4 linked regions of the Homo sapiens genome follow. Changing the gene in region 3 together with the main gene of any one other region gives a genetic interaction. Each region holds a gene or a part of one and is shown on either strand. Other genes may lie near its edges.

The links. Genes that interact genetically often act in the same process or in processes that back each other up.
Region 1: changes in TRPC6 (region 3) and TNFRSF10B together harm fitness less than expected from each alone (positive genetic interaction), as found in Homo sapiens cells (one large-scale study listed by BioGRID).
Region 2: changes in TRPC6 (region 3) and ALG6 together harm fitness less than expected from each alone (positive genetic interaction), as found in Homo sapiens cells (one large-scale study listed by BioGRID).
Region 4: changes in TRPC6 (region 3) and SPTLC1 together harm fitness less than expected from each alone (positive genetic interaction), as found in Homo sapiens cells (one large-scale study listed by BioGRID).

The regions. Positions count from the first base shown.
Region 1 is NC_000008.11:23,041,276-23,045,140, reverse strand, and holds part of TNFRSF10B (tumor necrosis factor receptor superfamily member 10B isoform 1 precursor), read left to right. Parts: intron 1-1,897; coding exon 1,898-2,003; intron 2,004-3,865. UniProt on the Homo sapiens protein: Receptor for the cytotoxic ligand TNFSF10/TRAIL. The adapter molecule FADD recruits caspase-8 to the activated receptor.
Region 2 is NC_000001.11:63,370,518-63,374,382, reverse strand, and holds part of ALG6 (dolichyl pyrophosphate Man9GlcNAc2 alpha-1,3-glucosyltransferase), read right to left. Parts: intron 3,613-3,865; 5' UTR 3,406-3,612; coding exon 3,324-3,405; intron 1-3,323.
Region 3 is NC_000011.10:101,577,143-101,581,007, reverse strand, and holds part of TRPC6 (short transient receptor potential channel 6), read left to right. Parts: intron 1-3,865. UniProt on the Homo sapiens protein: Forms a receptor-activated non-selective calcium permeant cation channel. Probably is operated by a phosphatidylinositol second messenger system activated by receptor tyrosine kinases or G-protein coupled receptors.
Region 4 is NC_000009.12:92,052,658-92,056,522, reverse strand, and holds part of SPTLC1 (serine palmitoyltransferase 1), read left to right. Parts: intron 1-1,028; coding exon 1,029-1,118; intron 1,119-3,865. UniProt on the Homo sapiens protein: Component of the serine palmitoyltransferase multisubunit enzyme (SPT) that catalyzes the initial and rate-limiting step in sphingolipid biosynthesis by condensing L-serine and activated acyl-CoA (most commonly palmitoyl-CoA) to form long-chain bases.

The DNA.
Region 1 (3,865 bases), on a different chromosome or scaffold from region 3:
TTTGTGCCCCAGCCACCCAAGTAGCTGGGATTACAGATGCACACCTCCATGCCTGGCTTTTTTTTTTTTTTTTTTTTTTTGTATTTTATTAGGGACGAGGTTTTGCCATGTTGGCCAGGCTGGTCTCCAACTCCTGGCCTCAAGTGATCCATCCGTCTCGGCCTCCCAAAATGCTGGGATTATAGGCATGAGCCACTGCACCTGGCCTCCTCATTCATTTTTGATTTAATTTATTTGTCTTCTTTCTTTTTTCTTAGTTAGTCTAGTTAAAGTTTAGTGATTTCATTTATTTTTTCAAAAAACTAACAGAATTTTGATAATCTTTTGTATTTTTTTCAGTCTCTATTTATTTTTGCTCTGATTTTTATTATTTCTTTTGTTCTGCTAACTGTGGGCTTAGTGTATCTTTTCTTCTATTTCCTTGAGGTACAACATTAAGTCTTGTATTTGAGATCTTTCTTCTTTTTTGATGTAGGCGTTTATTGCCATTTCCTCTTAAAACTGCTTTTGCTGCATCCCATACATTTGGTTATGTTATGTTTCCATTTCATTTTCTAATATACTCTTAAAATTCCCTTTTGATTTCCTCTTTGACACATTGGCTATTCAGGAGCTTGTTACCATTCAAGTTCTTTGTTCATTTCTTAATCACATTGTTGGCTTTTTGTTGTTGTTGTTGAGTTGGAGTTTTTTATATATTTTAGATATTAACCTTTTATCAGATATACAACTAGCAAATGTTTTCCTCTTCCTGTGGGTTGCCCCTTCACTGTTGATCATCATTGGATGCACAAAAGTTTTTAATTTTTACATAGTGCAATTTATCTACTTTTTTTCCTATATTGCTTGTGTTTTGGGGATCACATTCAAGAAATCATTGCCAAATCCAAGGTCAGGAAGAATAGTTCCTATGTTTTCTTCTAAGTTTTAGGGTTTTCACTTTTATGTTAGATTTTGGATCCATTTTGAGTTAATTTTTGTATACGTGTAAGTTAAAGGTCCGAGGTCATTGTTTTGTGATGAGTCAATGTCTAGATTTCCCAAGACCATTTTTAAAAAGATTGTCCTCTCAATTAAATGGTCTTTATACCTTTGCCAAAAATTACTTGATCATATACAGTCATGCACCACATAACAACATTTCTGTCAACAACAGACTGCATATGTGATGGTGGCTCCATGCAATTATGTAACATGCTACACAGGTTTGTAGCCTAGGAGCAAAAGGCTATACCATATAGGCCAGGTGTGTCATAGGATACACCATCTAGGTTTGTGTAAGTACACTCTTCTGATGTTCACACAACACAATTGCCTAATGACCCTTTGCTCAGAACAATGTTGAGCAATACATGGTTGTACGTGCAAGTTCATTTCTGGGCTCTCTGGTCTATATGTCAGGCACCTTTTAAATCAGAAGTTCACTATTTAATGTTTGATCCTGTATCCCAATTTTTTAAGTTTGCTATATTATAACCCCCATTTATAAAAATGTGTGTCTGTGTGTATGTCTGTGTGAGAGAGAATAAGAGAAAGAGAGAAAGAGAGAATAGGCATACCTATGGAAAAATAGTGGAACTAAATGAGACAAAATATTAATGGATGCTATCTTTAGCTGAGAATATCACGTGTGGTCTGTGTATTCTTGTAAAAACTTTCCTTGCCCACATTTTCTGGAATGAACATGTTTAGAAGAGTTTTGCAGGTGTATGTTACTTGGCCTTCCCTGAAATATGAAGGGACAAACAAACACTAAAGGATGTTTGAGAGGTGAGAGCTGCAAGAAAGATGAGGGTTCTGTTTAGCTTGGGTGCCTGGGCTCAAGAGAATGTGAGTGGATCCTGGGAGGGGTGAGGTCTGGAAGCCACTCATGCCCATCCCTGCTTTGTCCCCACAGGTCTCAGCTGAGTCTGCTCTGATCACCCAACAAGACCTAGCTCCCCAGCAGAGAGCGGCCCCACAACAAAAGAGGTCCAGCCCCTCAGAGGGATTGTGTCCACCTGGTATGTTCAAGATGGGTCTCTAATCCTTGCCCCTCCTCCCCTTGTCTCCATGAGCTTCCAGTCTGTTTCCTTTGCACTTCCTTGTTCTTTATTCCACAGAGAGGCATTGGGTGCCTCCAGTTCAAGGCTCTGTCCTTCTGGAGCCTTCCTGCTAGGATGGTATCAAGACACACAAATGAATGAGACAGCCAAAGAAACTGATAGGAACCTTGAGAGAGAATTGAGTGGGACAGAGATGGGGCTGGTGAGGCCTCCAGGCAATGGTGACTTTGGGCTGACATCCGGAGGAGGGCAGGGCCAGAGGTTCAGAGAGCCAGGAAGAGTGCTCCTAGGAGGGTTCCACTGGAACAATTGCCAGGGGGCAAGAGTTGGAGAAGATGGAGCAACAGCAGGGGGCTGCTGTGGGGAGTGGAGGGTTAGGAAGTTAGAGAGACACGTGGGGTCAGATCCCACACAGATGAAGCTGGATTTTATTTCATGAGTGATGGATGTCCCTGAGAAGTTTTCAGCAGAGGGCCACCAGCATCGGATGTACATCTTGAGTGCCCACTCCTGGACTGAACCGGAGCAAGACAGGAAGCAGGTGGAGGGCCTTGAGTGTGAGGCGCTCCCCTGGGATGTTATGTGGTGTCCCGTAAGGTCATTTGAGCCCCCAGAGATGCAGCAGGAACCTGGCCTGAAGTGTGCTTGACTGTTGTGTTCGCCTCGCACTTCTTCCCCCTTTTCCCCCATGTGTATGAGTTAGGAATTGATTGCTGCATGAAGGTTTCCAGGGCAGGCAAGTGTGGCAAGCAGTGGCTTTTAAAATCCATTTACAAAGTTGCATTTCTTTTCCATGACTAAGGGCCACAGGAAAGGCTTGCCTGAGGGCAAACCCTCACATTGCACATGTGGGCTTGCCAGGAGCAGAGCATGGAGAAGGAAGAACCCAGCGTGAAGCAGACACAAACTCATCTGTAAATGCTCCTATTGCTGTGGTCCAGGGTCAAGACCAGGAAGCAGGACGGGAATAGGAAGGACTCAAGACATATTTGGGGTGTGGATGGATGACGTGTGGGGAATGAGGACAATCGAGGCACCAAATTCAACTGCTCAGGGTAACTTGGCCTCTGAGGGGACAGTGTGTGGCAGGGCTAGCAGTACACATTTGGGGACCCTAGCACATAGGTGATGCTTGAAGCCGCTGTCTTGAGTGTGTCCACCTGGAAGAAGTTGTAAATACTGAGGAGGGGCACAACTGAGCCCATGAGGATTTGAAGTTGGAGACGATAGGCCAGGGAGACAGGACTGCAATGGGCTGAGCAGGAGCAGTTGGAGAACTTCCATCCTAGAGGAGAGATGGCCCTTCCAGCCACAGGGAGCAGGCCATAGCAAGTGTCAAGGACTGAGATGTGGAAACTCCTCGAAATGTGCATTTCTCTTCCTGTGAATGAGGTCAAGAATCTGTTCATGACACAGACACTGTTTGTACACTGGTTCTCCTAGGTTTTCTTCACTCCTAGTAAGAGGTTAGGTTTTTTTTTTTTTTTTTTTTAAATCATTGAGTCACATGAATTCTTACAGATTAGGGAAATTATACATTGATTGATTGATTGATTGACTGATTGAGATAGGATTTCACTCTGTTGCCCAGGCTGGAGTGCGGTGGCAGGATCATAGCTCACTGTAGCCTCAACCACTTGGGCTCAAGCGATCCTCTCACCTCGGCCTTCCAAAGTGTTGGGATTACAGGCGTGAGCCACTGCGCTGGGTCCAAAATTCTAATAAAAATTCCCATATAACGCCGGGCGCAGTGACTCACACCTGTAATCCCAGCACTTCGAGAGGCCAAGGTGGGCAAATCACTTGAGGCCAGGAGTTTG
Region 2 (3,865 bases), on a different chromosome or scaffold from region 3:
GTGCTGGGATTACAGGCGTGAGCCACGGCCCGGCCAAGAACCCTCTTAAAGTATGTATTAATACCCCACTTGATAGAAGAGGCTCAAGGAGATTAAATAAATTCCCCAAGATCAGGCAACTAACAGGTGAAAGAGCTAAGATTTGAGCCCAAGTCAACTGCTACATTTAAGTGATTTTACTTCCTCCATATTCCTCGAACTCATTCAGAAGCCACAGAGCACAGTCATAAGAGCACTGATTGTGGAATTAAATACAACTATATTTGAATCCCAGTTGTCATTTATTGGTTGTCTCATTTTCCATTTGTAAATCGAAGATATTACCTGTCTTCAGTGGTTGTGGTAAATACTAAAGAAAATACTCATACTCAAAATATAGTAGTTCTTACAAGTTCTTTCTATAAATCCTTTAAATTCATGCTGAATAAAGAGAAACTATATTAAGCCAGAGTATTTGAAAAAATTGGGCGCAGTGGCTCACACCTATAATCCCAGTACTTTGGGAGGCTGAGGCAGGAGTATTGCTCGAGCCCAGGAGTTCAAGACCAGCCTAGGCAACACAGTGAGACCTCATCTTTACTAAAAATCAAAACAATTAGCCAGACAATTAGCCACATGCCTGTGGTCCCAAGAGGTCAAGGCTGCAGTGAGCCAAGATCATGCCACTGCACTCCAGCCTGGGCAACAGGGGGAGACCCTGTCTCAAAAAAAAAAAAAAAAAAAATGTAAATTAAATTAAATTGAAAAATAAAAATAGCCCAAAAAAGTGTGTTGTTTTGTTTTTTTTTGAGGCAGAGTCTTGCTCTGTCGCCCAGGCTAAAGTGTAATGGGATGATCTTGGCTCACTGCAACCTCCATCTCCTGGGCTTAAGCAATTCTCGTGCCTCAGCCTCCCCAGCAGCTGGGATTACAGGTGTGCGCCCGGCTAATTTTTGTATTTTTAATAGAGACGGGGTTTTGCCATGTTGCTCAGGCTGGTCTTGAACTCCTGAGCTCAGGCAATCCACCCACCTTAGCCTCCCCCCAAAAAAAAATGTTTTAAGAGAAAAGAGAAACTATAGTCTGGTTAAAATATTGACTGGACATAGTGGCTCACACCTGTAATCCCAGCACTTTGGGAGGCTGGGGCAGGCAGATCACTTGAGCTCAGGAGTTCAAGACCAGCCTGGGCAACATGGTGAGACCCTGTGTCTACAAAAAATACAAAAATTAGCCAGGCGTCGTGGTGCACGCCTGTATTTCCAGCTACTTGGTAGGCTGAGGCAGCAGAATCACTGCACCAAGGAGGCGGAGGCTGCCATGAGCCAACATTGTGCCACTGCACTTTAGCCTGGACGATGAAAGTGAAACCCTGTCTCCAAAAAAAAAAGTCTTACAAAACATATATGTATGTGTGTGTGTATACATCTATATGTAAGAGCTACAGGCCAGGCACGGTGGCTCATGCCTGTAATCCCAGCACTTCAGGAGGCCGAGGCAGGCAGATCACGAGGTCAGGAGTTCAAGACCAGCCTGACCAACATGGTGAAACCTCGTCTCTACTAAAAATACAAAAATTAGCTGGGCATGATGGCATGCACCTGTAATCCCAGCTACTTAGGAGGCTGAGGCAGGAGAATAGCTTGAAACTGGGAGGCGGAGATTACAGTGAGCCAAGATTGCGCCACTGCACTCCAGCCTGGGTGACAGAGCTTTTTTTTCTCAAAAAAAAGCTACGATATACACAGACACATACACATTTATTCTCTACATACACATTTGCTATATACACACATATATACAGATATTTATATATATGTGTGTCTGTGTATATCCATATATATGTCTGTGTATATATACATTTACTATATACAGACACACACATATATAGGTATGCATAAAATACCTATATATGTGTGTGTCTGTGTATATACACATTTACTATATAGACACACATATATATAAATTTCCATATATGTATCTTCGTATATAGTAAATGTGTAAGTAGAGAGTAAATGTGTGTCTGTGTATATATATGTGTCTGTGTATATATCATAGCTCTTACAACTATTAATATTATTGTCTCATTTTTCTCTTTACCTATCTCTTTTTCCTATGACCCTTTTTCACTAACATAAGTTATTTTTCTACAACGAAATAATTTGCCCAGCTAATTGTATAACCTATTCTCTGGTCACTCTCTCCTCATCCTTTTTGTTCCTATGTTTCATGCAACTCAAATACAATACTTATAATAACCATGCTCTGTGACACCATGTCTGTTGCACAAGTTCCTGCACTCTATAATACCTTCTCCACTTCATTTGCCTAGAAAATTCTGACTCATCCTTCAAATCTTGAATGCAAACATCTTTCCTGAAGTTTTCTCTAATGCATCTTGATCATTTACCTCTCTATTAACTCTGTACCTCACACATACTCCTACATTATAATTATCACCCTCTGTTGTGACCATTTAACTATTAAAATGTGGGCCCTCTAGCTGGGTGCGGTGGCTCACGCCTGTAATCCCAGCACTTTGGGAGGCCGAGGCAAGTGGATCACGAGGTCAGGAGTTCGACACCAGCCTGGCCAGCATGGTGAAACCCCGTCTCTACTAAAAATGCAAAAATTAGCTGGGCATGGTCGCGTGCATCTGTAATCCCAGCTACTCGGAAGGTTGAGGTAGAAGAATTGCTTGAACCCGGGAGGCAGAGGTCACAGTGAGCCAAGATTGCGCCACTGAACTCCAGCCTGGGCGACACAGCGAGGCTCCGTATCAAAAAAATAAAATAAAATAAAATAAAATAAAATGTGGGCCCTCTGAGTATTGGCTATTCATCTTGTATTTTTAGAAGCTAGCACAGTGCCGGGAACATGAGACGTGCTAAATAGGTACCTGCAGAGTTACATTTAAGCCAATCCAACACACCAGGACCACACTCCATCAATTCCCCCTCTCTCATTCCCAATTTTATTCTTGTTCACTGATCGCTTCCCTTTAATCCAGTAATATGCTTCTCTACCCTAAACAGACTCCACCCCTCCCTTGAAGTGCTAGCTCATTTTCCTCTTCAATGTTTAATACAGAATCATTTCTCAATTTGTCATCTTACCTGTTAGAACACATTTTTGCTTTCTCACATCACAAAGCGCATGCTTCTATTTAGCTGTTATCCATATTCTTTCTATTAGAACTGGACATTTAAATGTATTTTCTCAACCATATCAAAAAGGCCTGAAATTCTTCTCTGTACTGGTCAGAAAATGGTAAACTTTTCCCCAAACAAACACCTATTCAAAGGAAAATTTCGTTTTTTTTTTAACCAGTAAAAATGTATTACCTGAATAAGAATTAAGAGACACTGTCCATCGTACTGTTAGTCCTATTAAAACCACTACTGTCATCAAGTACCATTTCTCCATAGTTCTTCAAATTTAGGGAGGGGAAGAAAACACAGCACCAGTGCCAGAGTACTTTTAAAACGTGGTCAATCACTTCTTTTCTTGTTCAGAGAAATGTTATCACTTCTTGAAATGTTATCGATTCTTCGCAATTAGGAGTTTGAGAGAATTTTAATGATGCTTGGTTTCCAAATAGTCAAAACTTGATTATGTCTATGTAGAAGTATCCTAAGGGGAAAAAAAAAGATATCAAGATTCAGCTGAGTACAGTACCTACAACAATGAACCCAGTAAACCAAGTAGAAGGATAGAGAATTCGAGGGGAGGGGTAGTGGGAAGGAATGTGAAGGAAACGTGGTATTTTAAGTTCCTTATTCCCTAGTCCTTTAGTTGGGAATATACATCAAAAGGTGGATCTCCCTATTAAATGGGACTCAATACATCTAAAGATATAGTAAAGATTTACTCTCACAAGGGAATA
Region 3 (3,865 bases):
ATTTTAAGTTTTTCTAGTTGAATAATCAACTAACAGAAAAATTTTAACCAAGAAACAAAAGTACTTCACACCTATGATGTATGAGAAAGAGCTAAAGAAAATTACTCCCTCTGGTAGAGTAGAAATCAACTCTTCCATATGCTTTTGACTTGTGATTTATACAATTTCATAGTGGGAGGTGTATCATTTCTGAAAGTGGCAATCACTAGTACATTTTAGATATGAATATTGCCATTTCTCAAATCATTGAGATTTTCCCTTATAAGATCCCAAGTCTTTGTAAGTTGTCATTTCTGTGGAATAAATTCTATGACTCTTGCCAAAAATTTCTGTTTCATAGTTTTCTTATTTAGAAAAATTTTTTACATATATTTATGGGGCTTCAGTAGTAATGGGGCTTCAGTAGTAATGGGGCTTCAGTTTTTATTTATATTTATGGGGCTTCAGTTTTCAGTAGTAAAACTGAAAATTATGGTAAATTATCTTATTTGTGAGCAATTATGTGCAATAAGGCCTTAATAGTTAAATAAGGCCTTAATAGTTAAAATAGTAATAAATTGAAATGGTGTTCAGAAGAAAATGGCTCAGATTTTCTCTTTATTCAACTTTCAATAGCAAATCAATTAATATTCTCTATTGTGATCAATTTGTAATGGTGATTAGCAAGAAAGGCCCATGTCCTGCCAAGGTCCCAGGAGGCATTTCAGATTTCCTTTATTTAGAACTTTAAAGGTATGTTTACAGTTCATCACTGCTGAACTTGGGGAAGAATCCCAGACATTTAAAAAAGTTAAGCATTTCTAAAATCTCAGGATCTGAAAACACAGTCCAACTAAACTTTCTGCTTGGGAAGGAGTAATTGATTGATTATGAATAATGAAACAGTAAACTGTAAACTAAAGCACTGGCAATTCAGCTGACTGAGACAATCTGAAAAATTTATGGTTACAGACACCTGGCAGTACTGGATAAAAGATTTTAAATGATTTTAAAACATCTCCCAATTTTGTGAAAAATAAAAGGGTAATCTACCATGTGCTAAGAACAAAGACATTAAAAGCGAGTATAGATTGTGAAGTGATGATGTGGTTGCCCTGTGAGTTATGCGTCCCAGTGACGAAGAAGCCTGGAATCTGATGTCCATATGAGACAGAAAGAAGGTAAACTCTTGGTGCCAGATGAGGCAGAGAGCTGGAACTGAGATACCCCTGTGCCCTGCATAAAGCCATTAAATAAAAATGTAGGCTAGAAATATATGCCCACCAGCATACAGTGAGAACAGGAAACTTTAACAGTAAGAAGAAAAGAACACTCCCCTTGAGAATATCGTTTTTGGGGTTTTTGTTTTTATACCCTACCTAACTAGCCTAGAAATAGTCAACATGGAAAATACTCCTGAGGTTCCTATAAGAGTAAAACACAAAATCATTATGAAAGACTAGTATCAAGCATCTAGATTGCCTAGGCTTTTCAAGAAGAAAGCAAGTCCTGCTAAAGATATGCTTGCTATAATGAATAACAAAACACACAAGGAAACAATCGACCAAGAGTGAGAGTCAGTGGACCATGGACTCAATCGACCATGAGTGAGTAGATATAAGACATGCAGTAGTTAGTGGATTTTTTAAAAAGTTGAGATAATACAACCACATGAAAAAGAATCTTTAAAAGTACATATAAATGTTGACAATATAAAAGAATAAATCAAACCTTAAGAAAAAAATGACATTTTTAAAGAAAAGGACAAATAGAACATCTATAAGTAAAAAATACAATTCTTAAAAAAAATTAATGGAAGGGCTAAATGCAGATTAGAACATAATTGATGATAATACCCAAAATGCAGAGACATAAAAAATATTTTGTATGAACATCGTTAAGAGTAATGGAGCTAGAAGGTAAGAGTTCCAGGAAAAGAAAACATATAGAAGTGGGAGAGGCAAGACTTGAATAGATAATGGGTAAGGATTTTCCAGAAATAATGAATTTTCATGTTTATGAAGTATACCAATATTATTGTAAAACAGAAAAAAAACCCCATTTAAACATATCATTTAAATTGCAGAACACCAAAGACAAGAGGAAATACTAAAAATTAAAGAAAACAGAGATTTGAATGAGAGAGTTTTAAAATTCAAAGTATTTACAGTGGAAATGCACTCATAATATATTTTGATATTACCTTGGTTAAAGAATGTATAGCTTGTAAGAACTATGGCTTTTCCATTACATAAAAGGTTTACTCTCTTGTTATTAATGGAGTCAGTGCTCCATTGCTGATAAGGTCTCCGATGGATATGTACTAAATATTTTTAAAAGGTGACTTATTGCATCACAGTCTTAGAGGAAACTCAAAGTGATTCTTAATTATATCCTCTCACATGAAAAAAACAAAAAATGACTTTTAAAAAATGGGTCACAGATCCTTTAAAATTTTTATTGACTTCAAGAGGGTTTTGGGTGACCTGAACCCCATTTATGAAAATAAGATCCAGAGTTTGAATTCCCAGTTTAAGAAAGGTAATGTAATGTTAGAGACCACAAGTAAAATCCCCCACATATTGTTTTCTTTTCTCCAGGCAAAAAAAGTTAGTATTGAACACATTGATAATAAGGGAATGAAAAATTCAGACTGTAGGCTAGAGAATCTTTCCTGATATTACTTGCCAATAGGATAACTAGTCTCTTAAAGAAGTTTAAGATTGAAGAACATGGACTCAGGCCTATGCATCATATTAAATTATTATATCCTTGTTATCTCTCCCTTGTTTTTGGCAACTATGTTCATTGAAACATCTGTTACACATTTTTACATTTATTTGTTCACACGTCCTTTTCCTCTGACTAGAATGTAAGCCACAAGAAGTGGGTCTGTCCTTCATCCCCCTATCTTAACACAGTGCCTAGCAGAGAGAAGGTACCATTTAATCTATTCCTCAACAAAGAGATTTCCTCCTCCTTGATATTTATTCAAATAAGGAATAAAATGATGCCAGCTACTTTAATGAAATAGCATCTGGATCAGCTAAGTTGGGCAGAAGAGTGAATGTCCATATCAAAAGAGATACCTATATCTTGTATTCCAGCTGCCTGTCACAAAGACTCATCTTTCAGGGAATCTTTCACCAATCACTACTGCCACCAGCATACTACTCTTCTTTTAGCTCTCTAGCCTGAGGCTCTTCCGTTAAAGTTCCCTCTGCACACCTGAGGCGAGGCTATATCTTTACCAAAGAGAATTAATAAAAAGGGAAAAACTCCTGGCTGGCTATAACTGCTCTTCCAGCTCATTTATGGAGTCTCCTGGGGATTGACCCTTGCCTGGCCCCAAGCATTATCTATCTGGCAGCGAGCGTTCTTGTTTTCCCTCTGCAGACCGTCCTCAATCAATCTAGTCCTTTGTCCTAGCCCAGACTGAAGAATGACTGCCTCCCCACCTCCCGCCACAACCTTTTTCTTTGGTGTAATATCTATTTTCCAAACTTTATTTCTTTTTAAAATTCTCCTTCTTTCCTAGATGATTGACATTAGATATGTCTACTCCTTTAAGCAAAGATACCACCACTGACCTACAGAAGTGTGGCTTTACTCTCTGACCCCAAAGGGGCAGTCACATCAGAACATGACAGTCCAGCAGCAGTACGAGGTATTTCCAAATAAAATTAAAGGGCTGATTTTCTTAACAAGACATATTTATTGAATGGTAAGTGAAATCAATAAAAGAGAACATGTGCGACACAATGATTTCTTATACATATGTAGTGGTCTAGAACGCAGAAAGAATCCTATAATCTAGTATACCCTTTGAAATGGCATCTATAACCATAAAGCCAAGACCTAGACTTTGGTGAAAGATTGCAGTGTG
Region 4 (3,865 bases), on a different chromosome or scaffold from region 3:
CGGGCGTGGTGGCTCAAAGCTGTAATCCCAGCAGTTTGAGAGGCCGAGGTCAGTAATCAAGAGGTCAGGAGTTCAAGACCAGCCTGGCCAACATGGTGAAACCCCATCTCTACTAAAAATACAAAAATCAGCTGAGCGTGGTGGCGGGTGCCTGTAATCCCAGCTACTCGGGAGGCTGAGGCAGAGAATTGCTTGAACCCTGGAGGCGGAGGTTGCAGCGAGCAGAGATGGCGCCACTGCACTCCCACCTGGGTGACAGTGAGACTCCATCTCAAAAAAAAGAAAAGGAGACCTCTCTACCCCACCACCTGGGAACATCATTGGACAAGCTCATAGTCAAATTTTACTTGATCCGATAATACATCAGTGGGGAGTGAGGAGGGAACAGGGTTGCCCCTTTTTTTGGGAGGTGAAGGAAAACGGTTTGAGTTTTTTAACTTTTTGTTATGGAAAAATGCCAACATATAAGAAGGAAACACAGTGGTATAGTGAAGCCCCCTGTACCCTTCTCCCAGCTTTGTTATCAGCATTACATCATTCTTGTGCCATCTGTTCCTCACCCCATCTTCATGATGATGACCTTCATTATAGTTGTTTTGGGTAAAATTGACAGACATTGAATCACATGAATGCAGCCATACAATTTTGACCAGTGATTATACCCATGTAACCCAGGAATGTCAGCCCCATTATGATGTAAAACATTCCCATTTCTTTAGAAAGTCCCTTAGGCCCCTTCCCAGTTGGAGGTTTGGAGGGTTTTGTTTGTGTTTTAATATTCTCAGAGGGCCTAATTAGTTTGTGTGTGTGGCGGGTCACCTAGCTAATGCTGTGAGCTGAAAAACGTCTGAGAGAAGATAGTACTGTTGTTCATCTCAAAATAACCCATCACAAACACTGAGCTTTCAATTCATTCAGAATATTTTTTTAGGAATAAATCTTGTAAGGTGAAAGTGCTGGGGAATATGTAACAGATCTTGTCTTCAGAGTTACTGAAATGTAAGATGTCTGCTTTTTCTCTTTTAAAGAATCCTCGCAAGGCTCGTGTAACTCGGCGTTTCATTGTAGTAGAAGGATTGTATATGAATACTGGAACTATTTGTCCTCTTCCAGAATTGGTAAGCAACCATGTTCAGCTGTAATTTTAATATTTGGACTATTTGACAGATGTGCCTTTTGTTTATGACCGCTTTTAGTGTATAACGTCTGCGTTGCTTTGCGCATTAGGCCTCATAAGCATATTTTGCTCAGATCAGGGAAGAAGAACAACACTGAATGCCAGTGCTGGCCTTCAAAGAGTAATCAAGACTGCTCTGTTGCCCAGGCTGGAGTGCAGTGGTGTGAACACAGCTCACTGCAGCCTTACCCTCCTGGGCTCAAGTGATCCTTCCACCTTAGCTTTCTGAGTTAGCTGGGACTACAGGCACATGCCACCACACCTGGCTGATTTTTCCCTTTTTTGTGGAGTAGGGGTCTCACTGCGTTACCCAGGCTGTTCTCAAACTCTTGGGCTCAAGCGATCCTCCTGCCTCAGCCTGCCAAAGTGCTGGTATTACAGGTATGAGCCACCACACCTGGCCAAAACTTAGCTTTAGCTTTTTTTTTCTCCCCCGCAAGACAGTCTTGCCCTGTCGTCAGGCTGGAGTGCAGTGGCGCCATCTTGGCTCACTGCAACCTCCTCCCCGAGGTTCAAGCAGTTCTCCTGCCTCAGCCTCCCGAGTAGCTGGAACTATAGGCGTGCGCAGACACCCCCAGCTAATTTTTGTATTTTTAGTAGAGACGGGGTTTCACCATGTCGGCTAGGATGGTCTCAATCTCTTGACCTCATGATCTGCCCGCCTGGGCCTCCCAAAATGCTGGGATTACAGGCATGAGCCACTGAGTCGGCCATACGTAGCTTTTAAGATCCAGCTTTATTTAGGTGAAATCAACGTATAAAATACACCTACTTTAAGGGTAAAGTTTGATAAGTTTTGACAGATGTATATACATCTGTATCACTGCAGCCATCCACCACCACAGTCAAGATACGGAATATTTTTATGTAAGACAATGTTTATCCAGAAAGAAAACTTTATCCAGAAAGCTTCCTGATGCCTCTTGGTAGTGAGTACCCATGTTGGCCCCAGACAGCCATTAATCTACTTTCTATTCCTGTAGATTAGTTTTACCTTTTGTAGAATTGCATATGAATGAAAGCATAGCTTGCTTTTTTGTTTTTTTGTGTTTTGTTTTTTGTTTGAGATGGAGTTTCACTTATGTTGCCCAGGCTGGAGTGCAATGGCACGATCTCGGCTCACCGCAACCTCTGGCTCCTGGGTTCAAGTGATTCTCCTGCCTCAGCCTCCCAGGTAGCTGGGATTACAAGCATGTGCCACCATGCCCGGCTAATTTTGTATTTTTAGTAGAGACAAGGTTTCTTCATGTTGGTCAGGCTGGTCTTGAACTCCCAACCTCAGGTGATCCACCCTCCTTGGCCTCCCAAAGTGCTGAGATTACAGGCGTGAGCCACCACGCATGGCCAAAACTTAGCTTTTTAATAGTGAAAGCAGCATAACTGTTTTTAGAAACCATGACCATTGAGATTTCCTTTATTGAGGTGAAATTCACATAACACAAAATTAACCAATTTAAATTGTACAGGACAGTGACATTTATTACATTTACCATGTGTGCAACCATCAACTTTAGGTCAAAAACCTTTTCATGACTCACGAAGAAGACCTCAAACCCATTAAACAGTCACTCCCCATTTTCTTCTCCCTCTAGCTCCCAGCAACTACCAATCTGCTTTCTGTCTCTATGGATTTACCTTTTCTGGTTATTTCCTATAAATGGCATCATATAATATATGACCTTTTCTTTCTGGCTTCATTCACTTGATGTTTTTAAAGTTCATTAACATTGTATACCATGTATCAGTATTTCATACCTTTTTAATGCTGAGTTATAGTCCATTGCATGGATAATACCACGTTTTGTTTTATATGTTCATCCACAGATGGATATTTGGGTTCTTTCTACCTTTTTGCTATTGCAAATAGTGCTGTTGTGAACATTTGTGTACAGGTATTTGTTTGAATTCCTGTTTTCAGTTCTTTTATGTATATATCTAGCAGGGTAATTGCTGGATTATATGGTAATTCTGTGTTTAACTTAATAAGGAACTGACATACTGTTTTCAACAGCGATTGCACCATTTTACATTCCTATCAGCTATATACCAGGGTTACAGTTTCTCTACATCTTTGTCAGCACTTATATTTTCCAGGGTTTTTTGTTGGTTTGTTTTAGCCACCCTAGTGAGCATGAGGTAGTATCTCACTGTGGTTTTGATCCTGTTTCCCCCAAATGGCTAATGATGCTGAGCCTCTTTTCTTGTTTTTTTTTTTGTTTGTTTGTTTGTTTGGCCATGCGTATACCTTTGGAGACATATCTATTCAGGTGCTTTGCCCATTTTTTAAATTGGGTTGTTTTTTTGTTTTTAAAAGAATTCCTTGTATATTCTGGATACTAGATGTTTATCAGATACATGATTTGCAAATATTTTCTCCTATTTTGTGGGGGTTTGTTTCATTTATTTGATACTGTCCTTTGACACACAGTTTTTAAAAATTTTGATGATGTCCAGTTTATGTGTTTTGTTGTTGCTTGTGCTTTTGTGTTTTATTTTAAAATCTTTGTTTAATCTGGCCGGGCACGGTGGCTCACGCCTGTAATCCCAGCACTTTGGGAGGCCGAGGCAGGTGAATCATTTGAGGTCAGGAGTTCGAGACCAGCCTGGCCAACATGGTAAAACCCCGTCTCTACTAAAAATACAAAAAAATTAGCCGGGTGTGGTGGTACACGCCTGTAATCCCAGCTA